6 linked regions of the Homo sapiens genome follow. The protein of the gene in region 6 interacts with the protein of the main gene of each other region in a pairwise test. Each region holds a gene or a part of one and is shown on either strand. Other genes may lie near its edges. The genes, in order: MARK1, TPM3, C20orf202, FH, ZBTB32 and CCDC102B.

Evidence for each region.
Region 1: the proteins of CCDC102B (region 6) and MARK1 interact in a two-hybrid assay, tested with the Homo sapiens proteins (one large-scale study listed by BioGRID).
Region 2: the proteins of CCDC102B (region 6) and TPM3 interact in a two-hybrid assay, tested with the Homo sapiens proteins (one large-scale study listed by BioGRID).
Region 3: the proteins of CCDC102B (region 6) and C20orf202 interact in binary tests that used the Homo sapiens proteins (3 or more experiments, as listed by UniProt).
Region 4: the proteins of CCDC102B (region 6) and FH interact in binary tests that used the Homo sapiens proteins (3 or more experiments, as listed by UniProt).
Region 5: the proteins of CCDC102B (region 6) and ZBTB32 interact in a two-hybrid assay, tested with the Homo sapiens proteins (one large-scale study listed by BioGRID).

Annotation. Positions count from the first base shown.
Region 1 is NC_000001.11:220,649,509-220,654,566, forward strand, and holds part of MARK1 (serine/threonine-protein kinase MARK1), read left to right. Parts: intron 1-1,111; coding exon 1,112-1,212; intron 1,213-2,477; coding exon 2,478-2,642; intron 2,643-3,589; coding exon of another isoform or gene 3,590-3,592; coding exon 3,593-3,844; intron 3,845-5,058. UniProt on the Homo sapiens protein: Serine/threonine-protein kinase. Involved in cell polarity and microtubule dynamics regulation. Phosphorylates DCX, MAP2 and MAP4. Phosphorylates the microtubule-associated protein MAPT/TAU.
Region 2 is NC_000001.11:154,174,110-154,179,167, forward strand, and holds part of TPM3 (tropomyosin alpha-3 chain), read right to left. Parts: intron 4,096-5,058; exon of another isoform or gene 4,005-4,095; intron 2,140-4,004; coding exon 2,006-2,139; intron 1-2,005. UniProt on the Homo sapiens protein: Binds to actin filaments in muscle and non-muscle cells. Plays a central role, in association with the troponin complex, in the calcium dependent regulation of vertebrate striated muscle contraction.
Region 3 is NC_000020.11:1,201,097-1,206,690, reverse strand, and holds the start of C20orf202 (uncharacterized protein C20orf202), read right to left. Parts: upstream 3,238-5,594; 5' UTR 3,106-3,237; coding exon 3,040-3,105; intron 1-3,039.
Region 4 is NC_000001.11:241,495,666-241,500,050, reverse strand, and holds the end of FH (fumarate hydratase, mitochondrial), read left to right. Parts: intron 1-2,080; coding exon 2,081-2,223; 3' UTR 2,224-2,448; downstream 2,449-4,385. UniProt on the Homo sapiens protein: Catalyzes the reversible stereospecific interconversion of fumarate to L-malate. Experiments in other species have demonstrated that specific isoforms of this protein act in defined pathways and favor one direction over the other.
Region 5 is NC_000019.10:35,706,310-35,711,367, forward strand, and holds part of ZBTB32 (zinc finger and BTB domain-containing protein 32), read left to right. Parts: intron 1-5,058. UniProt on the Homo sapiens protein: DNA-binding protein that binds to the to a 5'-TGTACAGTGT-3' core sequence. May function as a transcriptional transactivator and transcriptional repressor. Probably exerts its repressor effect by preventing GATA3 from binding to DNA.
Region 6 is NC_000018.10:68,800,284-68,805,341, forward strand, and holds part of CCDC102B (coiled-coil domain-containing protein 102B), read left to right. Parts: intron 1-5,058. UniProt on the Homo sapiens protein: During interphase, forms fibers at the proximal ends of centrioles to maintain centrosome cohesion. During mitosis, dissociates from the centrosome following phosphorylation to allow centrosome separation. Contributes to CROCC/rootletin filament formation.

The sequences.
Region 1 (5,058 bases), on a different chromosome or scaffold from region 6:
ATGAGCCATCACAATTGGCCTACATGTTCCAAGTCTTACCTAAACATTTTAATAATCTTAGCCTGTTTTGCTACCATACTTTTATAGTTTTTAGCATATGCTTTTTATATAACTGGTGACAAAATTCCTTCCATCTAGGAACCTGCACTACTGAAAAATTTTAAATCTGTATTCAGTTTTGTTTATATGAGTTTTTTTCCTTCTTCAAAGTGAATTCAAGCAAGTATCTATTAAGTTTGTAGCCCTCATGATTCAACAATGTTTAGGTTGCTTATATATTTTAAATGCTGGGTTAGTCAAAAGTAGCAAAAATTTTTGTTCTGTTGGGTAAGGATTAAACAGAAGAGTATTATATCCACATTGAAAATCATTTCTGTATATTTTATTACTGGTGAGTAGTCAAGGATTTGGCAGGCACAACAGTGGGTTACAGGTCAAAGGTTGTGTGCATGGTAAGGAGAATTACCTGCCTATCCCTTTTTGCTTATTTTCTCTCTTCTCTCCAAGGCTCCTCAGACTTGGCCTGCCTTCTAGCTCAAACCTGAGACTCGAGGAAATATCTTCAGGGTGGCACTGCACACACCACTGTTGGTGGCCTCAGCTGGACATGCCTTTGATCCTGGGGCATTTAGTCTGCTTAATATTCCTGGTGGTTGAGAGAGTTTCCCAAGCAGGTGAAGAAAGGCAGCCCACTGGCTTCTGAGTGGGCATGCCATCTTCACTGCCCGAGGCTCCTGTTGGTGATGATACTTAGTGTGGAGTTGGCTTGCACTCCTTGTTACTTAGAGCTGCTCACACCCCTGCTCCTGCCCTTTCTCTACCACCAGCTCACAAAGGAGGGAGTGAATAGAAACCCAGCTCTCCTATTGCTTCCAAACTGCTGGCTGCTATTATAGGAGGATAAGCTAAAACTGTAATGAGTTCATTTTTGATGCTTTGTCTTTTACTTCTGAAATCTAAATTAGAGAGAGGCAGGGGATAATCTTGTTAATATAAGATTCTGATCAATTAAAATTCTGTGGATTTTTCTCAAAGTCAGCTTAAATACATTTCTTTGGCTTTCCACAAATATATTTATAATTTTTTAATTGCCTTTTTTTTATTCTTGAAGAACAATGTGTATTCTGGAGGTAGCATGGCAAGAAGGAATACATATGTCTGTGAAAGGACCACAGATCGATACGTAGCATTGCAGAATGGAAAAGACAGCAGGTAAATGCCACAGTGCCAAGTAGTAATACCTTTGCTGTTGTTCTGTGTTAGTGCCCTTGCTGAAATGCCTGCAGCCGAATGGGTCAGGAGAAAAGCAGTTATTACATGAAATAGTAAGATTGCAACCAACCGTTCTTAGTAAGACATCTTTCCTGTACCAGGATAGAAGGATGGGAAAACATTTAGAGAAAACAAGAAACAAATCTCTTTACCTGCCAATTTCTGAGTAAAATCTGATAGTAAATATTTTTCTATAACAAAGCAGATCATACCATCCTAATTTCATCTTCATAATTTGAATCTTATTCTCTTATGCACCTGCTGCCTCCTTCCCTTTCACTTCCCATCAAGTCATTGCTGTATCTCAATAAAGGCTTTATTTTTCTCCCTCTGAAAAAAATGTGACCATCTTATTTCTCATCATTCAGAACCACATAATTTTTAAAGTGTTTTATTTCAAATAATAATAAATCATATTATTTTTATTACTTAAAAGATGTGTCTTCTTTCTATCATGAGTCACAAGGACTACTCATCAATATAGTACAAAGACATGGAGCCTATTCTAATGAAATTATTTTCTTAGTACCACCTTCAGTCATTTCAGTAGTGTGTACAACCCATTCTCACATTTGTTTCTTCTCACTTAATAAGAATGTAAAGTAAGTGCTATTGTAAGGCATACAAAGAAAAATGTATCTTCTTTGGACATAAGATAATTGGAAATTGATTTCAGACTTATGATTTTTCCTATACTAAATTTTAATCTGCAGCTCCTTTAATCTGCAACAGTTAACCTATTGACTCATAATATGATCTAAAAGTGTTTTGATGAATCTAGAGATAATATTTTTGGTATAATTATCAATTCTGATTGTATGAATAATGGACAATGAACTACAGCAACATATCACACCAAACTGTGACTTTGGGGAAGTAAAAAATGACTCCAGTCATAATAATTTTATCTGAAACTATCGTATATCCACAAAAATAATTTTGTACTTTCTCACATTTACATACATAGTGTGTGTGAGATTTTTTTCATAGATGATAGTGATAAATTCACCCTGTATACTTTTCATAAGAATATTAATTGTTTTGTTAGTCATTAATAATGCCACTAATGTTAGTTTCTTTCAAATGTTTCAGTCATGAAAGGTGTTAGTCAGTTTAGATTTTTTAAAATATAGTTCTTAAATTTTAGTAAACCACAAATTTTCCTCTTTTTTTCCATGGTCTTCTCAACTGCTTTATGGTGAAAGCCTTACGGAGATGTCTGTGAGTAGCATATCTTCTGCAGGCTCTTCTGTGGCCTCTGCTGTCCCCTCAGCACGACCCCGCCACCAGAAGTCCATGTCCACTTCTGGTCATCCTATTAAAGTCACACTGCCAACCATTAAAGACGGCTCTGAAGCTTACCGGCCTGGGTAATGTGTTGGTTACATCTCATTTTGTTCATTAAGAGTTTCTAAAAATATAGCACCATGTGAAAATACATGATAGTCACCATCACATTAAGACCTTTCTAATAAGATTCAGTGTTTGTTATGGAGGAAAAATTGAATTGTAACATAAACTTTCTATGTACTTTGGCTGTTATTGGAAATGTTGCATATAACTTAAATCATTTTCTAGAGGAATTTTTTTAAGGATTTGATTTTACATCCGTCTATAAAGTTAAAAATTGCTGTTTAATTTGTCATTTAGGTAAATTGATTTTTTTATTATTTAAACCATACGAACAAACACTAGACTGTGAGTTGAGACCCGCAGATAATGATCAGGCTCAATTCCTTGTTCTTAATAAAACCAGGCTTCAGTTTTCCTGTCAATGAAACTGATGAACTCAAAGAGCCTGTTCAGATATAAAATTGTATAATTGTTTTTCTAGTATTTTTCTATTTTAAGATTTCCCAAATTCAGTACATCTGAACATTTTAACCCTCTGTTAGATTTGTTAGGCATATTGGTGGTGCCATGTGGTATTGTAGCATCACTGAGGCCTAAATTAGAAATAGGAAATTATTTTATTCAAAGCCTTTTTAATAAACAATAAAATTTGTGTTCAACATTGCTAAGTGGTTTCAGGAGAATATTAAAAAAATATTTGCAGTACTCCTGGTTTGGCATTCCTGATACTGAAAAGTATTTATCTTTGTGTCCCTGTTTCAGTCATTTCTTGATTTTTAGTGACCAAACAAAAGGTACCTAATTTCAAACTGAAATTTTACTCCAAACCCATGTCTCACATCTCTAATGTGAACAAATAAAGTAGGGCCAAAAGAAGTAGCCATAGCTATTTGTTTCAAGTTTTTAGCTTGAGTGAAAGGTTTTCTTGTCATTATTCTGAATGATATATCTTAATTTGTCCCAGCAGTACAACCCAGAGAGTGCCTGCTGCTTCCCCATCTGCTCACAGTATTAGTACTGCGACTCCAGACCGGACCCGTTTTCCCCGAGGGAGCTCAAGCCGAAGCACTTTCCATGGTGAACAGCTCCGGGAGCGACGCAGCGTTGCTTATAATGGGCCACCTGCTTCACCATCCCATGAAACGGGTGCATTTGCACATGCCAGAAGGGGAACGTCAACTGGTATAATAAGCAAAATCACATCCAAATTTGTTCGCAGGTCAGTACCAATGTACTGTCGTGTTTTGATTCCTCTAGAAATTATAAAGGAAACTAGACTTTTTAAAAAAATCTTTATAATAATTTTCTAAAATGGTTTCATAACATTTCATTAGAGCTGCTCTTTTACAGAGTTGGAAGAAAAAAATCTAGGAAGACATAAAGTATTTTTCCTTAAGAGAGAGAAAGGAAAAAATGGACAAAATGAGATTTTAAAAATCTGTAAAATAAAATGGAAAGAACAAAGACTTAACTTCAAAAATGTGTGTTTTAACAAAAGATTATTTTATATTTAAAAGCCTTGATTGAGGAAAAGAAATGAGTTTACATGTTTCCTTCAAATTTATCTTGACAATACTTTTAAATTGCTTACTAATAATATATAATTTACATTTTTTTCTTCTTGCATAAAAAGCCTACACACCAGAGTCACAGATCACTTATGCAATTTTACATCATAAAACCTTATCATCAAAACATAGTAAACACAAAATGAATACATGTATAGTAAAGGTCTAATCTACTTAAACAATACAATTATACTTTCTAAAAAGTAAGCATACTTACTATGCTTACTATGCATACGTGTACAGTGCACATTGATGATACAAGTTGCTACTACAATGCAGGCTGATGTGGATTTCATCTATTCCTGGTCCCACTAAATGCCTACTTAAGCCCTGCGACAGACAAAGCACTGTGTTAGGTGCAGAACAGAATCTAAAGATAGGTAAGATGGCATCTGTGCCCTCCAGATTCTTATAGTCTTGTAAGAAGCAGACAAACAACTAGCCATGATATAAAGCAGAACATGTGCTAAAAAGTGTGGGCAACATGCTGGATTCCAGAGGAAGACACAATTGTTTCTATCTAGGGAGACAGTGAAGGCACCCTATCATATAATCATTTCAGCTGAGCCTTCAATGATGGGTAAGAAATAATTATACTTGCTTTAAGAAATACTAATTAAATACTTAGTTTCCAATGTTATTAGTGTTTCTAGGATTTCAAAGAGTGGATGTGGAAAAGAGAAGAAGCAGCTTCAGTCTTACTTGCCTTGTCATGGAGCTATTTATAGGCTTGGTTCATACATCAGTTTGCCCAGTATCACATAGCTGAATTAAAAACTTTAAAGCCTCAAATGTAACATAAATTTCTAACCATATCAGTCAGTGACTTTGTACCATTGGGGCAATTACTATGCAGCATGAAACT
Region 2 (5,058 bases), on a different chromosome or scaffold from region 6:
ATCACCTGAGGTCAGGAGTTTGAGACCAGCCTGGTCAACATGGCAAAACCCTGTCTGTACTAGAAATACAAAAATTAGTCAGGCGTGGTGGCAGGCGCCTGTAATCCCAGCTACTTGAGGGAAGCTGAAGCATGAGAATGGCTTGAACCCGGGAGGTGGAGGTTGCAGTGAGCCGAGATTGTGCCACTGCACTCCAGCCTAGGGGATAGAGTGAGACTCTGTCTCAAAAAAATAAATAAATATTATTTAAATATATGTGTATATATATATATATATATATATATATATATATATATATACACACAAAAATCCCATCCCAGCTTCCCCAAAGTAATAATATACTAGACGGTTCTGCAACTTGTTTTCCACACTCTTTTTTTTCCCCCCGGTATTCAGCATGCAGCTATCCTCACTTTCTTTCTTTTTTTTTTTTTGAGACCAAAAAAAAGAGGGAGGCTCACTGCAACCTCCGCCTCTTGGGTTCCAGTGCTTCTCGTGCCTTAGCCTCCTGAGTAGCTGGGATTACAGGCGCGCCCCACCACGCCTGGCTAATTTTTGTACTTTTACCAGAGACTGGATTTTGCTGTGTTGGCTGGGGTGGTCTTGAACTCCTGGCCTCAAGTGATCGTCCACCTCAGGCTCCCAAAGTGCTGGGATTACAGGTGTGAGCCACTGCGCCCGGCCCTCACTTTCTATAATTTGCATGCTACTCTAATAGTATACACATAGCTGCCTCTTTCATTTTCACAGCTGCACAGTAGTAACGTACCCTTAGAAAGGCACTATTTATTCTGAAAACCCTTAGTTGTCAAGCACCTCTGTTCTAGTTTAACTCACATGTGGCAAGGAGACAACTGGCTATTTTCAAAAACATGAGTTATAATTTGTTTCAAGGGCCATGGTTCTCAACCCTAGGAACACATTAAAATTAGCTGGGGAAGGCCGGGCGCAGTGGCTCACGCCTGTAATCCCAGCACACTGGGAGGCCGAGGCGGGAGGATCACAAAGGCAGGAGATCAAGACCATCCTGGCTAATACGGTGAAACCCTGTCTCTACTAAAAATACAAAAAATTAGCCGGGCGTGGTGGCGGACACCTGTAGTCCCAGCTACTTGGGAGGCTGAGGCAGGAGAATGGCGTGAACCCGGGAGGCGGAGCTTGCAGTGAGCCCAGATTGCGCCACTGCACTCCAGCCTGGGCTATAGAGCGAGACTCTGTCTCAAAAAAAAAAAAAAAAAAAAAATTAGCTGGAGAACTTTAAAAACATCAATGCCCAGACCCCTCTTGCAACTGATTCTAATGGAACTGGGATGAGATCTAAGCATCCAGTTTTAAATTCCCCAGTGATTTCCCCCCTCACCCCTACCTATGATTCTAATAATGCAACCAGCGTTGAGAAGGCTTACTAAAAACAGATTGCCAGGCCCCACATCCAAAGTTTCTGATTCAGCAGATCAGCATAGGAGCTGAGAATGTGAATTTTTACCAAGTTCCCAAGTATTGCTGATGCTGCTGGTCTGAGACCTTACTTAGAGAACCTCTGTTTTAGAGAAATTAATCTCACAAATAGAAGCTTATGATCCAGAAAGTAGAAGTCATACTGGTGATCCCATTTTAAGGATCATTAGGCCAATTTGTAAGGAAATACCAATTACAAAAGGGTCACAACATCTAAGTTACCCTTACTGTCTTCAAGGGGACAGAATATGCAGAATAGAAAGGAGATCCTGTGTGATGGAGTTAGTATTTTATTTTTATTGACTGATTGACACAGGGTCTTTCTCTGTCACCCAGGAGTGCAGTGGCGCAATCAGAGCTCACTGTAGCCCCAACTTCCTGGGCTTGAGCCACCCTCCTGCCTCAGCGTCCCAAAGTGCTGGGATTACAGGCGTGAGCCATCACACGCAGCCAGAATTGCTATTTAGAAAACAGGTCTATAAGGAAATCTTGATCAGAACTATTATGAACTTTTAAAATCCACACTCCATCAGGCTTCCCTACACACCTCTCACTCTCATCAGCAGCTTTTTCAGCTTCTTCCAGCTTTTGCAGGGCAGTGGCCAGGCGCTCCTGAGCACGGTCCAGCTCTTCTTCAACCAGCTGGATCCTACGGTTCAAGGAGGCCACCTCAGCCTCAGCCTGCATTTGAAGGAAAGAATGGACAAGGGAAGCAGAGGCATGGAGAAAAGAAGAAATAACTATGACATTAAGATCAGGGTTGACTACCATGAAAAAGCCAGAGTCTCGCAGGGTAGAACTTGTCTTAGCTCAGCTGTTAAAAGATCTAGCAGACATAACTTTATATATATATATTTCCTCCCTTTCCCATCAACGAACTCCCATATGTTCCACAGGAAGAGTGTTTTAAAACTCAGTTCCTTGCCCAGCCCAGTGAGTTAGTACCACCCACTTCCTGGACTCAGTTCAAATTCCTCAACACACTGGAGTCAGAAAAGAAAGTCAATGAAGGGTTCCTTCTGCCTGAGCTCTGGCTTGGAGGCATGTCTCATCCTCAGTAACCTTTCAAGTGTCTCATAAAGCAGGAAAAAAAAAAAAAAAAAAGCAAGGTTTCTTAAAGAGGGTATCCTGACTGGGTGTGGTGGCTCATGCCTGTAATCCCAGTATTCTGGGAGGCTGGGGCGGGTGGATCATGAGGTCAGGAATTTGAGACCAGCCTGGCCAATATGGTGAAACCCTGACTCTAATAAAAAATACAAAAATTAGCCAGGTGTGGTGGCGCGTACCTCTAGTCCCAGCTACTCGGGAGGCTGAGGCAGAAGAATCCCTTGAACCCGGGAGGCAGAGGTTGTACTGAGCTGAGATTGCGCCACTACACTCCAGCCTGGGCAACACGGTGAAACTCCATTTCAAAAAAAAAAAAAAAAAAAGAGGGAATCCTGGATTACCTATTAATTGCTGCTTAACTCAAACCGTTATTCCTATGATCACTTTACCCTAACACATCAGAAGAATAACTAGCCAAGGGAATGTCTTCCAGAATAGCCTTCCAGACTGGAAAGCAAAAGAATGGAATATTGTTGGGATGCCTACTCACCAGCCCTTCAACTTGTGCCCCCGTACTCCTTTTTTAAGTTGGCTACAAGGAGCTGCTTCTGGCTAAAATTATCTGCTTTGATAGCTTTACAAAAAAGAAAGAACATTTCCACCACACCCACTACCATTCCTCCAAATTTCTGAATTTTCTCCTTTCTATTCCTCCAGCCATCCCCTTAGCTTCACCCTCTAATACAGCGACAATCTTCCCCCTGGCCTCCATCTCACAATGAAGTATATAGGTTAGAGTCCAAGTAAACCCATCCTGGATGGGTTTTCTCTAAGAAACAAGGAAAGAAGGAGGCAGCCTGCAGGTGGATGGATAAATTCTAATGGTAGGAAAACCTCTTTCCATGACTGCCTCCCCGCTACCTTTACTGGTGGGAGGTACCCTGACTGCAACAGTATACAAGAATTTAATATGCCCCGCACACCACCCAGTTCAGATGCTTATCCAAGTGCCTGGTAAACACGATCTCTCTTCTATAGCCCAGATTGTGCCTGAATTCTATTACCCTGATTTCTTCCTGGCAGGCAGGAGTTGGTGCAGCTATAGAAACAGCCTGGGCCACTAGCTCCGATGAGGAAGAATATAGACCAAAAGACTCCTTTTTAACCATCAGGACTGGCACAAAAACTTCCACATACAAACATGAGAAGCTGAAGAGACTAGGAAGGGAAGCAGAGGGCTGGGGCTACAATCTAGCCACCAGGCAAAGAAAATCGAGAAGTCAACATAAGCTGAAATCATTAAGAAACCATTTGTGCCTCTAACTACACTACTCAAAACACCACAAAGACAAGTATTCTCTGCTTCTGCCTCTTCCAGAAAAATAGATGTTCTCTGTAACAACACACATTTCTCCTCACAAACCCAACAAGGCCATGGATCAAGAGCAAGTCAGGCTATCAGGCAAGACCTAGGAGACACTGCTAGTAAAATGACTTACCCCCCTCAGACGAAAAATACAACTAGATTTAGAGGAAGCTCATGAAATGTAAGACATCATGCAGCTCACCAGTAGTTACCCAAACTGGAGTAGAAGATAACAGGCTATGGGGCGGGGGTGTACAGTTGCCATGACAGCAAGCTGGCTCAGGCAGTTTCTCCCACAAATCAGCATTTACAATAGAATTCTTAGCAAGGCTGAAAAGGGAGAGGGGGAAAACACATCTTGGTGCCCTCCTAAGAGCATGCACACATGAACAAGCCTGTATCAAAAGCAGAACCTGAGATGGGAGTCCTAGAAAAAGCTTCAGAGACCCCCTCCAGGGTGGAGTGGTAGGGAATGGGACCTTGCCTTTCTCTTTTCTCCTAGCACAGAGGATCAGTTCTCTTTACAATGAAACAAAAGCCTGCAGAATCAAGATCTGATACTTTGTTTAAAGGAACAAGGAAGACAAGCTGACTTTTCCCTCATGAGTCTATGCACAGTGCCTGTCCCTTTCAGGTCAAATAATACCAATGGGTACCAAGAGATTGAACAGGCCTACTTTTTGCAGACCAGGCTACCTGTGGCCCTGGGAAACGTTAAGCTCTGCACTTTCCTAATCATCTTAGGTTTTAGCATGCCCATCCAGATGCGGTTTTGGTGTTTCAGCTGACCTATCTCTGCCCAGTGTGGAGGATATACAGTACTCTGTGGTTCTTCCCTTCAAGTAATAATAGGATTCTCCACTGCCCAGGAAGCAAAGATCCTGGGTGAGGGATTGGGGAAAGAGTAGAATGCCCCAGCAACTCAGTCACATTACCAGATGGCTGACAACACCTTCGGCTATCCTCCACTCCAAAGAGATTTCCCAAATATGTCAACCCCTCCAGGCAAGAAACTGACAGTGTGATGGTACTCTCAGGCAGAACAGGGCCAAGGACAGAAGGGGATTAGCCTAAATCTGGCTTTCTGCCACACTGGGGTTTCTCTTATTAGATAAAAGCCACAGATAAAATTCAAATGAAAGAGTATCAGAAAGTTAGGCTTGAGCCCTGTGAGTAAAGGACTATTT
Region 3 (5,594 bases), on a different chromosome or scaffold from region 6:
CTTTTCAAGGCTTTCATGAGGACTGAATGAATTTGCCCATGGGAAAATCCTTTCAAGGGGTCAGCGAGGTCAAAACTACTTTGGTTACAATAGTAAGACGTTATTTTCCTTTTTTTGCTTTCATTTTCTTATGAGCATACCATGGAGTTTTCCAGAAGCTAATGACATGTAATGTCTCAACAGACTGAATGCAGGAAGCAGCTATGAGAATCCAGCTGTGTTCTATTAAGACAGACATTAAAGCAATTTGCAACAATGTAAAATGGGGCTACTCTTCCCACTAAATATTTGCTTTGAAAAATATAGTTATTTTGAATAAGTAATGTTTTATTAACATATTATGAATTTGTTATTATTTTAGAATGCATTAGTAAATATATTAAAAATGTCTCAGCTTTGGCTTCTAATTCAGTCAGTATTGTTATATATAACTCACGTAAACAAAAGCTTTTTGGTGGCCTTAATAATTTTTTGGGGCATAAAGGGTTCCTAAGACCCAAAAGTTTGAGAACTGCTGCATTAGAACTCTCCTGTCATCTTCAGCCATCTCCATTCTTTCTCCCATTTTTTCCTGAGAATTTTTTCCCATACATTTTCTCTCTTTTTCTTTCTGTTTATTTATTTATTTATTTATTTTTGAGGCGGGGTCTCACTGTGTTGCCCAGGCTGGAGTGCAGTGGTGCAATAACGGCTCACTGCAGCCTCGAGCTCCTGGGTTCAACTGATCCTCCCACCTCAGCCTCCCGAGTAGCTGGGACTCCAGGTGCACACCACCATGCCCGGCTATTTTTTGTAGAGGCAATGTCTTGCCATGTTGCCCAGGCTGGTCTCAGACTCCTGGGCTCACGCGATCCTCTCAACTCAGCTCCCAAAGTTCGCTTTCTCTTTAAAAATGTTAAAATTCTATTTTTTGACTAAGTAATTCTTAACACATGATAGAAAATTTAAAAGCTACAAAAGGACATATATTTAAAAGTCTCTCCCACCCACCTCACTTTATCCCTCAACTCAAGCGTCCTTCTCCAGAGGCAGCCACTGCAAATGCTTCTGTTTTTCCTTCCAAAGCTGGTCGGGGCAACACATGGTTAGATATACAGATTCTCAGCCTCTCTCTTTCTCTGTCTCTCTTTGCAAGAGATACTTATGAACATTATTTCCCCACTAAAAATAGTGTTTTCATTTTTGTGACAAGCTGATTACAAGTAAGAAGACCAAGTCTGCATCCTCTACTCAAGCATGAGTAACACTGCCAAGAGAATATGTAGCTAGAAAGAGAGATGTGAGGCCAGGCCCAGTGGCTCCCACCTGTAATCCCAGCACTTTGAGAGGCCGAGGTGGGCAGATTGCCTGAGGTCAGGAGTTCAAGACCAGCCTGGCCAACATGGTGAAACCCGGTCTCTACTAAAAATACAAAAAAATTAGCCAGCCGTGGTGGCATGCGCCTGTAATCCCAGCTACTAGGGAGGCCGAGGCAGGGGAATCACTTGAACCCAGGAGGCGGAGGTTGTAGTGAGCCGAGATCGTGCCACTACACTCCAGCCTGGGCGACAGAGTGAGGCTTCATCTCAAAAAAAAAAAAAAAAAGGAAAGACGTGAAGCAAAGGTGTAGTCGGCCTCCCTCAGAACACTGGGACGACTCAGGCTGCAGAGCGAGTGGTCCTGGGCCCATTTTTTCCTAATTCCTCAGAAAACATTCACTCTGTGTTTTCTCGATTTTAGGGTTTTCCTCCTGCACATATTTCTGGGTATGCGCCTACAAGACCACAGTGGGGTTCCCAGCACGGAGGTGGTGATGAGGCATCCAGGCACCCACAGTTTCAGGGAGCATAAGGAAGACAGCTGCCCAGTGCTGGATGCCTGCTGACTGTGGGAAGCTGCAGTCCCTGCTGCTGGAATTCCCTGGTCCCATGAGAAACCCTACTGGGTCAGCCCTTCCTCTGGGGTGATGACAGGGTTGGGTCCCAGCTGGCCTGTTGCCTGGCAACCCAGAAAGGTCATTTTTGGACAATCCTGTCTGTCTCTCCCCAGGATGAGAGGTGTGTATATTGAGAAACAAACCTCTTCTGAGGTTCCCTGAGCTGCCTCCTCTCTCCTGGCTGGTGTCCCCACACACTTGGGGGCACCCCTCTTTTTTCGGACTTGGAGAAAATACCATAATGAAAGGCATAAGCCTGGCTTCCTGAGCAGCAACCACAGGACCAAGTAACATAACATCGGGTCAGGAGAGTTAGTGCTCCATGGGGGAGGCCCTTGCCAATGGGAAATGAGAGACAGGAACGAGCTGGGCAGATGAATTTCCTCTCGTTCTCTCTCCCCCAATGTGCAGTTCCTCCTTCAACCCCTGCAGAGCATCTCAGCTGCTGAGACACCCACTGGGCCTCCTTAAGGCAACTTCTGAAGCCGTAGGCTGCTTGGTAATACAATGTCTGGCGTAATTGCCTGGCATAGCATTGGCCTCTGCTGCCACACCCTATGTTCCTCCCTATCACCACCCTTGGCTTGTACTTCCAAATAAAGTGCTAGTTTCTCAATCCTTGTCCAAGCCTCTGCTTTCTAGGGGACCCAGGCTAAGACATTGGGTGTACGCATGTCCATCTGGGTCAGGGTTATAATAGCCAGCACCACGGTGCCAAGTATTCATTAAGAGGATTACAAGCATCTCTTCAGTGAATCCTTACAATACCCCATATGATATTGGTACTATTGTTATTCCCATTTTGTGATAAGGAAACTGAGGCTCAAAGAGATAAATCCCCTGCTAGAGCCACACAGAGGACTCAGCACACACGGAGGACTCAGTGTCATTCTAAAACCAGTCTGGCCAGCACCACACCCAGCACCTCCCATATAGGCCACGACCTACTTATCCCTGAACCTGAGATCACAATTGTGCATTGTGTGGTAGGTCCCAGAGGGGAGACTGCAGGGTCCATACCGTAGCCTGCAGCCTCTGCCCCAGGGGGGACCCGGGAAGGAAAACCAGAGATCTTTGGAAAATATGTAGTCGGGGCATCAAGGAAAAGCAATGCAAAACCTTACCAGCTCCTTTCTCAGCCACTCCAAGGTCTGCCCAAGACTCGGGCTGGGCTCTTCTGCTATTTTCATCTCAGTGTTCTTAGGAGTGACCTTGACACTGACCTGGTTCTGGGCCCGAGGGATCTTTGACTTGTACATTCCCCCAACTCTTTCAGACTGGCAGCAGGTTCTGGCCAAATCACTGAAGATGGAGTTAATGAGAGCAGGAAGTAGCTCACATTGAAAAATGTAATCTGGCTTTTTTTTTTTTTTTAAAGGGCTTTAGTGCTCTGAACAGAACAAGGAGGAAGGGAGGGAGACCATTATGGGTCCGAGTACCTTGGAGCCTGCTGTTCCAGAAGCCAAGAATATGTGATGCCAACAGGATCACAGAGAATGCAAAGCTTTAAATGGCAACAATATGGTTATTATGAAAATAGGCACTCTTTTCTAAGGGTTTGCTTTGTGCTTTACATATAAACTATGTATATGTCTCATTTGGCATATACCTCCACGGGTGTCCCAAGTCCCTGTCCTCATTTACTTATCTATAGAGTCCAGATAAAGGAAATGCTCACTTTCCAAGTTTCCTTGTTTCTGGAATCCCCATGTGACCCATTTCCAGCAAATGAGATCAAAGCAGCAATTTGCTGTTAGGCTTCCAGAAAAACTTTTACCTTCCTAACAAAAGGGAAAATGTCACTGCTGCTTCCCTTTTACTCCTACTTTCTCCCTTTTCCTTCTGCCTTGAATGTGGATGTAATGTCTGGAGCTATGGTAACTGTCTTGCGACCATAAGACAAAGCCCAAGAAAATCACAGAGCCATTAGAAATCATTGCACCCCTGACTCGGCAACAGCATCTATATGAGAAAACAGACCCGATGTCTAATGGAACACTCTGCTACTTGCAGGCAAACACAGTCCTGACACACCATTTATTCTTCCCATTGTTATAGGAAAGGGGTCCCAACCCAGACCCCAAGGGAGGGTTCTTGGATCTCATGCAATAAAGAATTCAGGGGGAGTCCATACAGTAAAATGAAAGCAAGTTTATTAGGAAAGTAAAGGAATAAAAGAATGGCTACTCCATAGATAAAGCAGCCTTGAGGGCTGCTGGTTGCCCATTTTTATGGTTATTTTTTGATGATCTGCTAAACAAGGGGTAGATTATTCATGTCTCCCCTTTTTAGACCATATAGGGTAACTTCCTGATGTTGTCATCGCATCTGTAACCTGTCATGGCGCTGGTGGGAGTGTAGCAGTGAGGATGACCAGAGGTCACTCTTGTGGCCATCTTGGTTTTGGTGAGATTTAGCCACTTTCTTTACTGCAATTGTTTTATCAGCAAGGTCTTTACGACCTGTATCTTGTGTTGATCTCATCCTGTGACTTAGAATGCCTTAACCATCTGGGAATGCAGCCCAGTGGGTCTCATCCTCATTTTACCCAGCCCCTATTCAAGATGGAGTTACTCTGGTTCAAATGCCACTGACATCATCACACCGTGAAGCAGGTATTCAATTCTCTCTTTCGCTAAACACTTATTGAATGTCTACTGTGTGCCGAGTTCTGCTCTAGACACTGGGGTTATCAACCAAAATCAGAGAAACAAAGGCCCTGCTTTCCTGGAGCTGACATCCTAGTAGTCATTGGAAACAAACAATCAAATTAATGCTACGATGAAAATATGTAGACTCTATTCTCACATAGGTCTTTTAAAATATAAATTTATTGGGCAGGCGTGATGGCTCACGCCTGTAATACCAGCACTTTGGGAGGCCGAGGTGGGCGGATCACCTGAGGCCAGGAGTTCGAGACCAGCCTGGCTAAACATGGTGAAACCCCGTCTCTACTAAAAATACAAAAATTAGCCGGGTGTGGTTGTGGGCGCCTGTAATCCCAGCTACTCAGGAGGCTGGAGCAGGAGAATTTCTTGAACCCAGGAGGCGGAGGTTGCAGTGAACTGAGACTGCAAATGTATATATATAAATTTATTCTATTCACATGCACTAGAAACTCCAAACCAAGAATTAGCATAGTGACCCCAGATAAAGATGTGAAATGACTGGCAAAGCAAACTCAGCCGAGTTTAGGGAAACTTGCCCTCAATCTGGCTACACAAAATATCCTCAGATAGAGCTCCCCTGAAGATGAACTCATATAAGAACACACAAGGAAGCCATTCACCATAAATGAGAGTCAACAGACACCATTCACCCCCTTCCCCCAAGAACTTCAGATGAAGATAATTAAAAGTATTTTGAGGCCAGGTATGGTGGCTCACACCTGTAATCCGAACATTTTGAGAGGCCAATGCAGGAGGACTACTTGAGGCCAGGAGTTTGAGACCAGCCTGGGCAACATAGCAAGACCCCTTATCTAAACAAAATAAAATACAATAATTAGCCAGGTGTGGTGGCACGTGCCTGTAGTACCAGCTTCTCAGGAGGCTGAGTCAGAAGGATTGCTTGAGCCCAAGAGGTCGAGGCCGTAGTGAGCTTTGATTGCACCACTGCACTCCACCCTGTCTCAAAAGAAAAGTATTTTGAAAAGAAGAGGCATACAAGAAGGAATCAA
Region 4 (4,385 bases), on a different chromosome or scaffold from region 6:
CTTCCCTAGATCTCTACAATGCTTTAATTTTGTTGTTTTATTCAATTCAGAAATGGAAAGTTACAATTAAAAGAAAAAGTTTATGTATTCATTGCTTATAGTGAAAGGGAGGAAGGAAAATGCAAATATTTTGTCTAAAACCATGCTATTGTATTATAAGTCTTTTTTGGAACTGTAAATATTTCATTATGTAGAATCAAACATACAGATTTGGGTAGTAGACTGACCATAGAGATCTCCATTAAATAAACTGTTTACACTTTTGTAGATTTTGAGGCATTATGTTGCATTATATTATGATGTGTTAAAAGCCTTTTACCCATTCTTCCTTTCTGCTAAGCAGAGGTTAATATATTTTCTGCCTTTCTGTTATAGAACAAGTTATGATTCACTTATTTGGCATAATATGGCTACTGCTTCTTCTATAATCTTGAACTTTCAAGGCAAATTTTATATTCCTGGTTTCACATCAAGCTATAATTACAGTTTTTTAAAATTAGAGCTCATTTGACTCTTTTAGGTAGCTCTGAGCCCAGTATGATATCAGTTTTTTGGTGTGGCATTGAGATTGGTAATAATGTTTGATCCATTTAAAATTATGGTACATCAACTACATCTGGAAAAACACAAAGGGGAACCCAGAGGCTCGTGTGAGCAGTTTTCATCAGATCTTTACTTCAGAATGTGTTACCAAAACTTTAAATTAGAGGTGTCTCCTAAAGTTGAATGATTGGCAAATCTTTATTGGAATCAACTTATTGTGACATAAAAAGAATTGTTAGAGGCCATATGAGAATGAGATGGGTCAACACCACCTCACTAGTTGACTTGGTGTGAGCCTTACAACCCTCTGAATCATGGGTTCCCTATATTCTCATTATGTACCAGGCTGGTTGCCAATAGTGTCTTGTTGGACTTGACAGCTGAAATGCTTAGACTTTAAAGCCATTATTAAAATAAAAGTACTGGATATATATTGATCTCAAGAGTTTAACATGCAAATTCTTTCTCAAAGCATTTCTGCTTTAAGAAAGATGCCCTTTTCAGTAAATGGCATCAATAAATGCCCTTTCAGATCAATAAATGCCCTTTTCAACATATTTAGCATTCACAAATTCAGTTAAGTAATAAAAGTAACTATGCCCATGCTTTCTTTTATAGCTGATTAATAATTGCATATTGACACATGCCATCTTATTGATGATGTATACTGCCTCAGCAAGCTTCTTCCTTTTGGTCATATTTCTCTGATCTTGTTTTTTTTCTCCCGCATTGGTTTCATTTTCATTCCTGCTTTTTCTTCTTGACATATATATATATATATATATATATATATATATATATATATATATATATGTTAAGACAGCTTGCAGAACTGCCCTGCCCCCACTTTTATTAATTTGAAAAGCAAATAACTCTGAAGTAAACAGTATGCCTGTGATCTTTTGTGCAGTCTGTATTTCTGCCCAGACTCCCTATTTGTGTCCCTGTAATGTCTGGGAGGAGGCCAGGGTATAGAAGCCATTGCAGTGGAGAGCCACATAGAGAAGAGCCATTGGAAGCAGCTCTGGAGGCACCCCTCCCCAGGCCCTGCCTGCGCCTGCCTCACTGCGAGGACTTCTCCCCTCTCAGAGCCACTCACCACAGTTGCCAGACGTGCAGTGCTTTATTTTCTGCTGGACTGGAGCATTTAGCTTGTTAATGTTTCTTTAGAAAGATAATTGTTTCTAGTTAAACATGTTGTTTGAAAAATATACCCAGATGTATATTTTTATGTCGTGGTGCTATAATTTCTACTTTTTTCCCCTTCAAAATATCTAAGTTACTGGAAAATTTCAACTTAGGAACAAATCTGTTGGAGAAAGTGAGGTATGTTTAAGTGTTTATTTCTTAAGGAAAGTAAATGTTCTACATAAAAAATGATTATTGAGATAATCACTGTTAACTAATTTAAAAACAAAAAATGTCATTTAAGAGGCCCATATAGCATCAATATCAAGTAAACAATTATGTCACCTTTTGCTTTAGGAAACCAAATATCACTGCTAACCCATATGTCGTCTTTTTATTTTTTCTTCAGGGTATGACAAGGCAGCAAAGATTGCTAAGACAGCACACAAAAATGGATCAACCTTAAAGGAAACTGCTATCGAACTTGGCTATCTCACAGCAGAGCAGTTTGACGAATGGGTAAAACCTAAGGACATGCTGGGTCCAAAGTGATTTACATAAATTTATAATGAAAATAAACATGTATAAAATTTAAAAAAACAGACTCCCATTTCTTAAAAACGGATAAGTTTGAAAGGAAACTGCTATTGAACTTAAGCATCTCTAGCAGAGCAATTTGATCAGTATATAAAACCCTAGGATGTGCTAGGTCTAAGATGGATTAAACAAGTATAAAATAAAATACATTTATAAAATAAAAAGGAAAACAGACTTAAATTTTCTCCTATGTTAATTGACTTGTATTATAGTTGAATCTATGATATTTGTGCATGTTGTCTTTGTGACTTCATAAGTTACCAATTTCTAAAGGGTTTTAATTTTGGAGGTTATTGGTGGTTTAAAAAATTGCCCGATTATATCTTATTATCTCATTCCCAAACTATGTCCTTAGCCATCTTTTATTTTCCTTTGATTTGGAGACACAGTGACCAAGCCCTTTTGAGTGGGGATGTGTATATGTGTGTGTGTGTGTGCACGCACGTGTGTGTGTGTGATAGAATAGGTTAAGAAAATTGGGACATACATATCCTGTGTGTTAAACACACACCTATCCCTCCAACCTTGTTTCTGTTACCACAGAGGGACCAGATCAAGGCCAGGCATGGTGGGTCAGGGACACCGACTTTAGGAGACTGCGCTTTGGGAAACTGAGGCAGAAAGATCATTTGAGCCTAGGAGTTTGAGACCAGCCTGGGCAGCATAATGAGATCCCTATCTCTACAAAAAATAAAACAAAAATTAGGCAGGCTTGGTAGTGTGTGCCTGTAATCCCAGCTACTCAGGAAGCTAAGGTGGTAGGATTCCTTGAGCCCAGGAAGTTGAGGCTGCAGTGAGCCAAGATTGCACCCCTACACTCCAGCCTAGGTGACAGAGTGAGACCCTGTCTCAAAAGAAAAAAAACAACAAAAAGACTGGGTTAAGAATTACAGGACAAGGGTTAGAAAGATAAAGGGAGCAGGCAGGAAGATGGGAAGGAAAGGAAAGATGTCCTGAAAGTGAGTCTTGTTCATCATCTCAAGTGCTGAGATTCTTCAGCAGAAATTCATTTGAAACAACCTTAGGGGATTTTGAATTAGCAGTTATAGGGAGATGCAGAATAGGGTGACCCAAATCCAAAGCTAAGGAATGTATTTAAAATAGAGCCAACCTCTACTATGCAGGGAGTCGGAACAGGCATTTGTTCTATTTTTTCTTCTACCTCGTGTAATAAATAACAGGATCATAAGAGGAACTCTCATTAACTAAAACATCTCATCTGTAAGTATTACTCTATCAGGTACATTTTAAAAAATGGGATATTTACCCCCTAATATTCTTGGGAAATCAGTCACATTAACACCAACTCCTCTGTCGTAGTTTGAAGTAGTTGCTTTATATAGAATTTAAAAGCGTAATTTAAAAAGTTCTAGAAACATTGTGATGAAAGATGAAATTTATATTTTTCTAATTTCTTAAGCGTGAATGGTCACTATTAAAAGGCTGTTCAAACTTTAAAAACTGAACTATAGAGAACCTATAGGATCTACTTTTTAGCTCATGCAATACTGTTTCTGCCAGTGTTTTTCAGAGGGCGATGCGATGATGCTTGTGTAGCTTGCTTTAAAACAAAGCATGCTTTCCGTTGGCACATTCTGTTTGGTTTTTTTTAGAAAAAGATTTTTATTGGAAAATAAAATCAATTAGACTGCATAGCTATGCCTGGACCCCGACAACCAAACTGGCAACTGATCTGTAGTTGTGAAACAGTTTATCCACTATGATGCTGAATGTTTTGCCTTAGCAGGCATTCTCAGTCTAAATAGGCTGTCATTTGAGGGTCACGAGAGACACAGTGACTTATGTAATAAAGATTATGGCAGATCAAGTTCCTAGCCTCAGACAGTCTTTGCACAGCTGTCTGATGTATCCCAGCATATTATAGGGCATCATGGAATCCTTTGAGTTGGCAGTCATCTTTGTGTGATGTTAGTGAAGTGAAACCGCTTTATGATGCAATCTAAATAAGGCTTGTAGAATTCCCTGTTGGAGGGTTGTTCCGAAAGTCAACTTCCATGTTTTTTCGCTAGGGGCAATTTTGTCTCCCAGGGGACATTTGGCAATGTCTGGAGACATGTTTGGTTGTCATCACAGAGGAGGGGGGTGCTACTGGCTCT
Region 5 (5,058 bases), on a different chromosome or scaffold from region 6:
ATAATTCCTAGAAGATGAAGATATCAGGCTGTAGGTGCGGGGCAGGTGCATGGGGAGGATGAACATCGTAGTGGAGCACAGGAAGAGGTGTGTGAGATATTCTCCTCTTTAGGAAATCACCCAGGTTTTTGGCAGGGCGTGGTGGCTCACACCTGTAATCCTAGCACTTTGGGAGGCCGAGGCAGGTGGATCACCTGAGGTCAGGAGTTCAAGACCAGCCTGGCCAACGTGGTGAAACCCCATCTCTACTAAAAATGCAAAAAATTAGCCGGGCATGGTAGATGCCTGTAATCCCAGCTACTTAGGAGCCTGAGGTAGGAGAATCACTTGAACCCAGGAGGCAGAGGTTGCAGTGAGCCGAGATCGCGCCACTGCACTCCAGCCTGGGCAACAAGGGCAAAACTCTGTCTCAAAAATAAATAAGTAAATAACATAAAGGAAATCACCCAGGTTGTCTTTACTGATGATCTTTTTTATACTCATGGGGCAGGGTGTTGATACCTAGTTTCATTCAGCTGTTCAGTGGTATTTATGCTTTCGGAGTGCCTTCAGTACACCCAGAGTTCTTTAACCAGGGGTGAGGGTGCAAGGAGTGGCTTATGAGTGGACTTCAAGGAAGTCTAACCCCGAAACCAGTTAATATTGGGGCAGCTCAATTGGCCATTCCCTCTATGGTGTGGTGGGGGCCCGGGGTGCTGGCACATGAAGTGTGCAGTTAATCCCAGCTCGGCAGACAGCCACCAAGCATGATGGCACATGCCTGTAATCCCAGCTACTCAGGAGGCTGAGATAGGGGGATGACTTGAGCCCAGGATGTCAAGACTGCAGTGAGCCATGATTGTGCCACTGCACTCCAGGCTGGGTGACAGAGCAAGACTGTGTCTCTAAAAAAAAAAAAAAAAAAAAAGAACAATTAATGGTATGCATGTATATTATGAGGAGGGGAGGGTAAAGAATAAGCTAGACGATAGTTAACCTCTCCAGCCATGAGGCTCAGAGTAATCTGTCAATCTCTTGTCATGCATTCATATGCCAAGTGGTATAAGTGTCTACCATTTTCTTTTTTTTTTTTTTTTTCGAGATGGAGTCTTAGCTCTGTTACCAGGCTGGAGTGCAGTGGTGTGATCTTGGCTCACTGCAACCTCCGCCTCCCGGGTTTAAGCAATTCTCCTGCCTCAGCCTCCCAAGTAGCTGGGATTACAGGCACGTGCCACCACGCCCAGCTAATTTTTGTATTTTTAGTAGAGACGGCATTTCACCATGTTGGCCAGGACGGTCTCTATCTCTTCACCTTGTGATCCGCCCACCTCGGCCTCCCAAAGTGCTGGGATTACAGGCGTGAGCCACCGCACCCGGCCTGTGTCTACCATTTTCTAATGTCAACAATTGGTCCCAGGCTGGGTGGCTCACACTTGTAATCCCTGCACTCTGGGAGGCTGAGGCGGGTGGATCACTTGAGGTCAGAAGTTTGAGACCAGCCTGGCCAACATGGTAAAACCTCATCTCTACTAAAAATACAAAAATTAGCCGGGTGTCGTGGTGCGTGCCTGTAGTCCCAGCTACTCAGGAGGCTGAGGCAGGAGAATCTCTTGAACCTGGGAGGCAGAGGTTGCACTGAGCCAAGATCGTGCCACTGCACTCCAGTCTGGGTGACAGAAGGAGACTCTGTCTCAATAAAAAGAAGAGTTAGTCCCATGGGTGACATTCTGAACCTGATGGTGACTCCCTAAGAGATTTAGAACCATTGGAATAAAGTAGGTTCCTATATTATTTATGGGGCCTGGGCAAGATGACAGAGACTCCCTCGTCTCTTCCCATGCCTGGTGTTGGCCCATACTTCAAGGTGTCTCACATTCTAGCCTGCACATCCAAGCTCAGTCTACAAATCCCTTACACAAAATCAGGGTCTAGCGTGTGTGTACATCAGTCAGAGTCCACTCTCATGAATACAGGCCTGGGGTTGAGTCCTGTGTAGGGGGCCTCAGAGTCATTTGGTCCAGGAAATCCAGGGTGCTGAGTTCTCAGAGCATGGTCCAGAAGTGAGGTGGGAGCTCACAGTTCCGGGTAGGCACTTTCTAGATGCCTTTTGACTCAGCCTATGCGAAGGGATACAGCCAGAGGAGGTCCAAATGGGACCCTTTGCCCAGGTTTAAGTCAACACTAGTATTCTGTACTGGTCTTGAAACAGCCCCTGTGAGGAAATTGAGGGTCTTGGAAGACTTAGCTCCATATGAGTGCTGAAGAGAAGGGCCATTCACTGTGAAGGGATGCAGTGAAACCTGTTTTCCAACTTCTAGTCTAGTTCTTTTTCCAGTTAATCCACAAAGTGTGTGCTATGAAGGGGCTAGATTCAGCTCACCTGGGTATGACTATAGCTGGTTCTTGGATCATATAGAGCACAAATTTAAGGGAAAAAGGGAACTAATTCACTCCTTGTGGTGACTCTTTTCTGGAAGTCTTGGATGTACTTAACCAGAAAGACGGAACATCTTTTTTTTCTTTTTTCTTTTTTCTTTTTTTTTTTTTGAGACAGAGTTTCGCTCTTGTTGCTCAGGCTAGAGTGCAATGGCGCGATCTCGGCTCACCGCAACCTCCACCTCCCGGGTTGAAGCGATTCTCCTGCCTCAGCCTCTCGAGTAGCTGGAATTACAGGCATGTGCCGCCACGCCCAGCTAATTTTTTTTATTTTTTGTAGAGACAGGGTTTCTCCATGTTGGTCAGGCTGGTCTTGAACTCCCGACCTCAGATGATCCGCTTGCCTCCACCTCCCAGAGTGCTGGGATTACAGGTGTGAGCCACTGCGCCTGGCGAAAGAGTAAACATACTTAAAGTTCATGTAAGATTTGGATAATCGCTCTTAATCTATATAAAATGCTGTGGGGAATTTAACCACCTTCATTTGTGGAAAGAGATGGGTTCACGGGAAGAGTGGCGAGTTCACAGAATTTTTCTAAATTGAATCTTGTTCAACTTGGCTTGGGAAGAGGGCTTGATATTTAAAATAAGTGAAATAGAGGGAGAACTTTTTCACAAAACAAATGATCATCCCTCCCATTGGTCTATTCTGATGGTTTGATTTTAATTATAATATTTAAGGAGAATTGGTATTTGTGTTGCTGTGTTGACATTGTTACATCAAGCTGGGTTGTGCCTCAAGAAGTTCATGATACAAGGATTTCTGGGAAGCTTTGACTTTGCAGCCAGGGTGTGCCCCGAGCCCCTTGCACATTTTTCCCTTAGTGTCCCATTGGTCAAGTCTACCAGTAAGAATAAGAACTATCAGATTTCAGGCCAGGCGTGGTGCCTCATGCCTGTATCACAGCATTTTGGGATGCCAAGGCGGGCAGATCATGAGGTCAGGAGTTCGAGACCAGCCTGGCCAACATGGTGAAACCCTGTCTCTACTAAAAATACAAAAAATTAGCCGGGTTTGGTGATGCACACCTGTGATCCCAGCTACTCGGGAGGCTGAGGCAGGAGAATCACTTGAACCCAGGAGGCGGAGGTTACAGTGAGCCGAGATTGCGCCACTGCACTCCAGCCTGGGCAATAGAGCAAGACTCTGTCTCAAAAAAAAAAAAATCAGATTTCAAATTTTATTCAGTAATACGAGTATTAGGCCGGGCATGTAGGCTCACGCCTGTAATCCCAGCACTTTGTGAAGCCGAGGTGGGTGGATCACCTGACATCAAGAATTTGAGACCAGCCTGGCCAACATGGTGAAACACCATCTCTAATAAAAATACAAAAAATTAGTCAGGCATGGTAGCAGTTGCCTGTAATCCCAGCTACTTGGGAGGCTGAGGCAGGAGAATTGCTTGAACCGGGAGGCGGAGGTTGCAGTGAGCCAAGATAGCGCCATTGTACTCCAGCCTGGGCAACAAGAGTGAAACTCTGTCTCAAAAAAAAAAAGAAAGTAATATAAGTATTAAAAAGGACTGAGAGGCTGATATCATATTGCCTTTTATCACATACTCCCCTTCCAATCATGCCCTACCTAATCTCTCTACCTGCTCTACCCTCTGGCAGGACACAGGCTTGTGTCTGCATAACCTGTTGTTTCTTTGCTCTTTCCAGAGAGACAACTGCAGATGATTCCTACCGAGTCAGCCCAGGAAGAGGAAGGGGGGGCAAGGTTTTTGAGTCTAGGGAGGGGGAGTACTTTTAAGAACAGCAACAGACCAGGCATGGTGGCTCACACCTGTAATCCCAGCAGTGGATCACCTGAGGTTAGGAGTTCGAGACCAGCCTGGCTAACATGGTGAAACCCCATCTCTACTAAAAATACAAAAAAATTAGCCGGGTGTGATGGTGCATGCCCGTAACCCCAGATACTTGGAAGGCTGAGGCACAAGAGTCGCTTGAACCCAGAGGCAGAGGTTGCAGTGAGCCGAGATGGCGCCACTGCACTCCAGCTTGGGTGACAGAACAAGACTCTGTCTCAAAATAAAAACAAAACAGCACCAGCAGTGTCCCTACTCTTCCAAGTCAAAGTGCTGTCTGCTTCTGCCATCTGTGCTCAGTGCAGGATGGCTTGGGTTGCACTGTCAAGAATGCAGGAAGAGGCTAGAGAAGTGCTCAGGGTGTCATCAGCATAAGGGTTGCAGTGCAAAGGGCCCTGGAGATAATTCTAGGAGGCGGTCTCTAAGGGGATATCCTTAGGTGGGGTTCCCCATTCTTGGGGGCTTTTGTTCACTGAAAGGGGAGTTCCCTTGCCCCTCCTCCCTTTTAGGTTCCCCGAAAGCCCACTGATGCTCCCTGTCAACTATATTTGGCTTACACAGAATGCTGCCCTTTGAGCAGTCTCCAACTCTCTCGATCATCAATGAGCAAACCAGCGGGGGAGCTGAGTCACAAGCACATGATGTGGGGCTGGAAAGCGAGGGGGCCACACTCAGAGGGGTGACCATGTAATCGTCCAGACCCCTGTACCTTTCCTCATCCCTGGGGCTAGTCCCTCAGGGCTTTCCGCACTCCTTCCTTGTCTTGAGGGACTCTGTATTTCTGTGTTGGAGGAAGGGTGTTTCCCTCTGCGTACATACATATCAGAGGGACTGA
Region 6 (5,058 bases):
CAGAAGTCGAGCAGAATGGTTTGAAGTGGACACTGGGATTTTAGGGTGCAGGGAGGAGGTCGTGAGACAACAGCCCAAAGATCCATTCCGATATTCTATAAATCCAGACGAATTACTGTTCTATCAGTTGGGCCACACTTTTCCTTTGGGAATTGAGAGAAGAGACTGACGCTGCAAATAAGGGGTAATTTTTACATTTAAATTAGCGGCCCTCAGATTCAACACTTATGCTTTTCTCTCTCTTACATTTTCTTAAATCTACTTAGAGAAGGTATCTTTTGCATTCTCAAAGAAAATGTCATCACTGATTTGCACTGAATATTACCTATTCACAAATGAGATGTGTGAGGTGGCCAGGAATAACACTGGGGATGTACTGACTTTCCTCTGTTTCTTTTTGATACATGGTATCAACGAACACTCAGCGACCAAATACTCTTAAAACTATGGAATGACCAAGTTATTATCAAATAAAGGCATTGTATAAGTTTCATTTCAATAGGTGAAAAGCATAAATAAAATTCACATTGTAATAGATAGTGTGAAATACAGTACATTCACAGTAAAAAAGAATAGAACTTATTTATTAACATGTTTTCCTTCATATATCCAAACCTTAAAGACATTACTTCTTCTCAAAGTAGAACTAGTATCTGGGATAACATTCATTTTCTTCTTCTTTTTTTTCAATGAAATAAAAATTATAGCTTATTTCATAACAACGAGGTTTTTTTGTTCAATGTATACATGATGGTAACTATGCTATCATTTTATGAACATACTGCCTACTAGTTTAGAATCATACTATCATTAAGTAGGCTTTACTGAAGGAGTATCTTTTTGCCGTACACGAAAACAGATGAGGATAGTTGAAATGCAAAGATTTGGTCACTGACCTTGAGATTTTATTTTTGTACAGGTTTAGGTTGCATTCTAAGAATATATTCTATAGAAGACATTTTGTATAACTAGTGCTCCATCCTCAGTGCCCTGACTAATTGTAGATGCTCAATGGAGATTGTGAGCTTGAGACCTTGATTGTAAAATGGAAAACTAGATATTGTATTGGAGGTTGTGCTCAAGGCCATTTAATTGTAGTCATAGCTTTGCAAAGGACTGTTAACATTATTATATACTTAAATATTATCCAAGTTGATTTATATTTAATGATATTTCCTAAAAGAATTGCTGTTGTGTGTCATAAATATATTAAAATATTTGATGTTAAAATTTTGATAGAAGGATTTTTTTAGTAGCTAAAGAAAAAGGTGTCCTTAATATTGAGAAAAAAAACATATGCTCACTGAAGAATTTATAAATATATCTTATCATAGTGTCTGTTTCAAATTTGTAGAATTAAAGTTTCCAAAAATAAAAGTGAGATTTTTAGTCACTGACTCGGGAGCATATGTTTCTAAGCTGCAGTAAACGTTTGGAAATATAACACAGGTAAAGAGGCAATAGTTGCATGAAGAAAAACCTGTAGCAACTTTAGACTCATTTTCATTTGGAAATAGTTTTGAGAGTCTTTCATACAATCTTTCCTTTCCTCCCTTAGTGAATTTAGGATTGTGAAGGCATTAGGTGAAAGATTACATTTATGACCTCTGCAAAAGATCAAATAGTCTTATTAGTCAGCCTATATTCATGAATTTTCTATCTTCTTTTGACATGAAGGGTTTTGAACAAGCGTTTCTTCTCTGGATGAGAAGAAAATGTATTTCACAATAAAACATGAAAATTATAAGGTGCTCAGTGGGATTATAACATTTGGTAGCACAGGAAAAAAGAGAAAGATGTGGAAGTGCCATAATCCATTGGTGTTTCATATAATTCTAGAAGGTTCTGGTTATAACCTGTTCCTAATTTGGAGCTAGAATAATCTCAGGGATTGTCTGAGGGTTCAGGTGAGCTTTGTTCTATCTTTGTTTGGAAATCACTTTACAGGTATTGTCAATGGTAGGAATGAGTTGGGTCAAAGCAACTACGTAGAGTCCCTGCCATCCTATTTTTGATACTGCCCAGGCTTCTTCATTCTTTTTGTAATAATGAAACTTAAGTTATAGAATTTATGATTGCATGGATTAAAAACATGGATGTTGCAATTATGTCGTGCTACAAGTGCCCTCTAAAGGTGTTAATGCTATATGAATTTACTTGCTGGCTTTTATGTTTTTGATATGTTTTTATATTTTATGTTTTTGGTATCAGGACTAAATAAATTTGACCTGATAATGTAGATTAATGGGAGAAATTCCAGTATTCATGGATTAGAACTAGGAGGGCTATCTCAGATACAGGCTTCTCACAGAAGGCTGGGGCCTAAGCATAGGTACTGAATGCAAAGCTCTGGTCCTGGACCTCACATGGTCCATTCATTGTCTATGGTTGGCCGTCATTGTTTCCTCTGTGGCTATAAGTTTCTTCCATATTATTGAGCAGGATGTTTATCTGAATTAATATAAATGACATATTCGAGAAGCATAGATCTTTATCCAAAACGATATCAGAAGTAGAAATAGTGCAGAAGACAAACTCCACCTCCCATCTGCTGATTCTTTTGAAACCCCTTGGTCCTCTTATCTCTGAAAGGGATACATGGCTTTGTTCTCCCAAATATCCTATCCACTTTCCACGCTGTTTCAAAAGTATTTCTGGCCAAATAAATGTAAATCTTCATCTTTTGTATATACAGATAATCATCATAGGTGTATTTGTGAATTATTTAAGTACTTGGAAGAATGAAGTTGCTGATAGCAATTAAAGTGGTGTGATTGGGGTTAACCTCACTTAAAACTGTTTCTTTATTAATTTTAAAAGCCTATAAGCGTTTAATATCTAAAAGCCACCTTCTTTAGAGAAGACTGACTTATTTAGTGGAACTTGTAATGCTTGCCTTTTGGAAGAAAAGGAATAGTTCTAAGTCACTCTGTTTTAGATTTGTCCATTTAGTAATAAATGTCTACCATGTCTCAGACACTGTTCTAGCAATGGAAATAGAGATGTGAATAAAAAGTAAAACCCCTTTCTTTACATTAAGCATATAGTCTAGCTGGTAAAGCAGTAGAATCCATACATAGTATATAAATATATATTAAGTCATGATAAGTACTGGAAGAAAAAAAGAACATTCAGGCTAAAAGGGAATAGAATATTTACACACTCTTGAAATAACCAGGGAATGTCCCTTCTGTTAGGGTGAAGGATGTAAGATACTTAACCACGAGGAATCTTGGCAGAAGAGAAGTATAAAGGAAATCACATGTGCTAAAGTCTTAAGTCAGAAGAATGTCCCTTCAAGGAATGGCCAGATGGCCGGCAGCTGCTGGGAATGAGCGAGGCAGGGAGGCACAGGCAGAAGCTACTTTAAGAGGAAGTAAATCCAGCTTAAGCTTCAAGATATTAGGGTGGTGCAAAAGTAATTGCATTTTTTGCCATTACTTTCAATGGGAAAAATCACAATTACATGGTCACCAACCTAATATTATTTTACTTTTAAAAGGGCTCTTCATACCCCAACTGTAGGAGCCTCAGGTCGGGAAATCATGGGTCCTGATGAAGAGTTCAGGGATGGTTTATGTTTAGATCATGACAACATCATAAACTACAACCACTTTATTCTGAGTTTGATGGGAAGTCATTTGAATGTTGGGATCCTAGAAATATTGTAACATAAGTTGAGTGTTCAAAGCATCCACTCGGCTGTGCTGTGGAGAACATACTGGAGTAGGGAAAAGGTAGAAGTGGGGAGGCCAGATACCATACAGTATTCCAGGCAAGAGACAGGGTGGTTTGAAGGAGATATTAGAGATGGAGTTTTTGTAATTCTGCATAGGCTGTATTTCATATTTTCCTGCCAGAACTGATGGAGTTTCCAACAATGATGTGCAATGAAGAGACAAAGGAATCAAGGGTAACCCCTAAGTTTGGTCTGTAAACCTAGAAGAGTGAAATGTGCATTTATTGACACAGGGAACACTGTGGAGGAGCAGGTGTAGATGTGAGGGGAGTTCAAGTGTTTGTTTTTGAACATGTGAAATCTGAGATGCTGATTAGATATCCTTAGTGATGTTAAGTGGGCAGCTGGACACGTGAGATCCCAGAGATAAAGGAACATCTCAGGCCAGAGATATGTCTGTTAGGAAATTTCAGAAAATTAATGAATTTGAAGTCAAAGGCCTGGATGCCTTCACCCAGAGCAATTACCCCAGCCTGAAGTCTCAGTGTTGGAGCGCTTGCAGTCAGAGGTGTGAAGCTGAGACAGAATGTGGGGCAGCTACCAGGGAGTAGGAGGAGAACCATGAGAGAGGATGCCCTCAGAAGCCAAGAAAGGGAATGATGAAATGGACAATCACATACAGGGCTTCTGGTTGGCCAAGTAAAACAGGAATTTCAGGCCTGGAATTGACCATTAGATTTGCAATGTAGAAGTCACTGATTTCCTGTTTTTGTGGCAAACTAGAGTTGAAAATGATACTGCGACTTCAAGAGAAAATGAGATAAATGAAAGTGTCTTTAAAATAATTTTTATTTTAGAAAATGCCAAAGATATGGAATGGCTGCTGGGTTGGGATCAAAATCTTTTTTTTTTTTTTTATGTTGAGGGTATTATAGCATGTGCATTTGCTAATGGGAATAATCTAATCTAGAGAGAGGTACAAACTAGTTAAACAGGAGAGGAGTATATTTGAGGAGGCCATGTCCTGGAGCGGATTAGAGGAAATTAGATAGAGCATACAAATGGGAAGTTTGGTGTTAAGAACGTGGAGTAATTCTCTATAAAAACAGACAGAATAACATATGGGTATCCATTAGACACATAGATATGATGGAACCAGTGGATGGCAGTTGTCTTATAATTACATATCTTTTGTAAGTGAAATAGAAAAACCCCCGCAATCTCAACAGATAAGGCAGAGCTGAATAAGATATGAAAATTTTGAAGATAGCTAATGTATGGGATTATTCAGTAGAATGTTTGTGATTTAATCAGGGAAAAATATTAATTTCCCTATGGTAGAGTTGGCTTGGCTACATTAAAGCCCATATGAGGTTCAG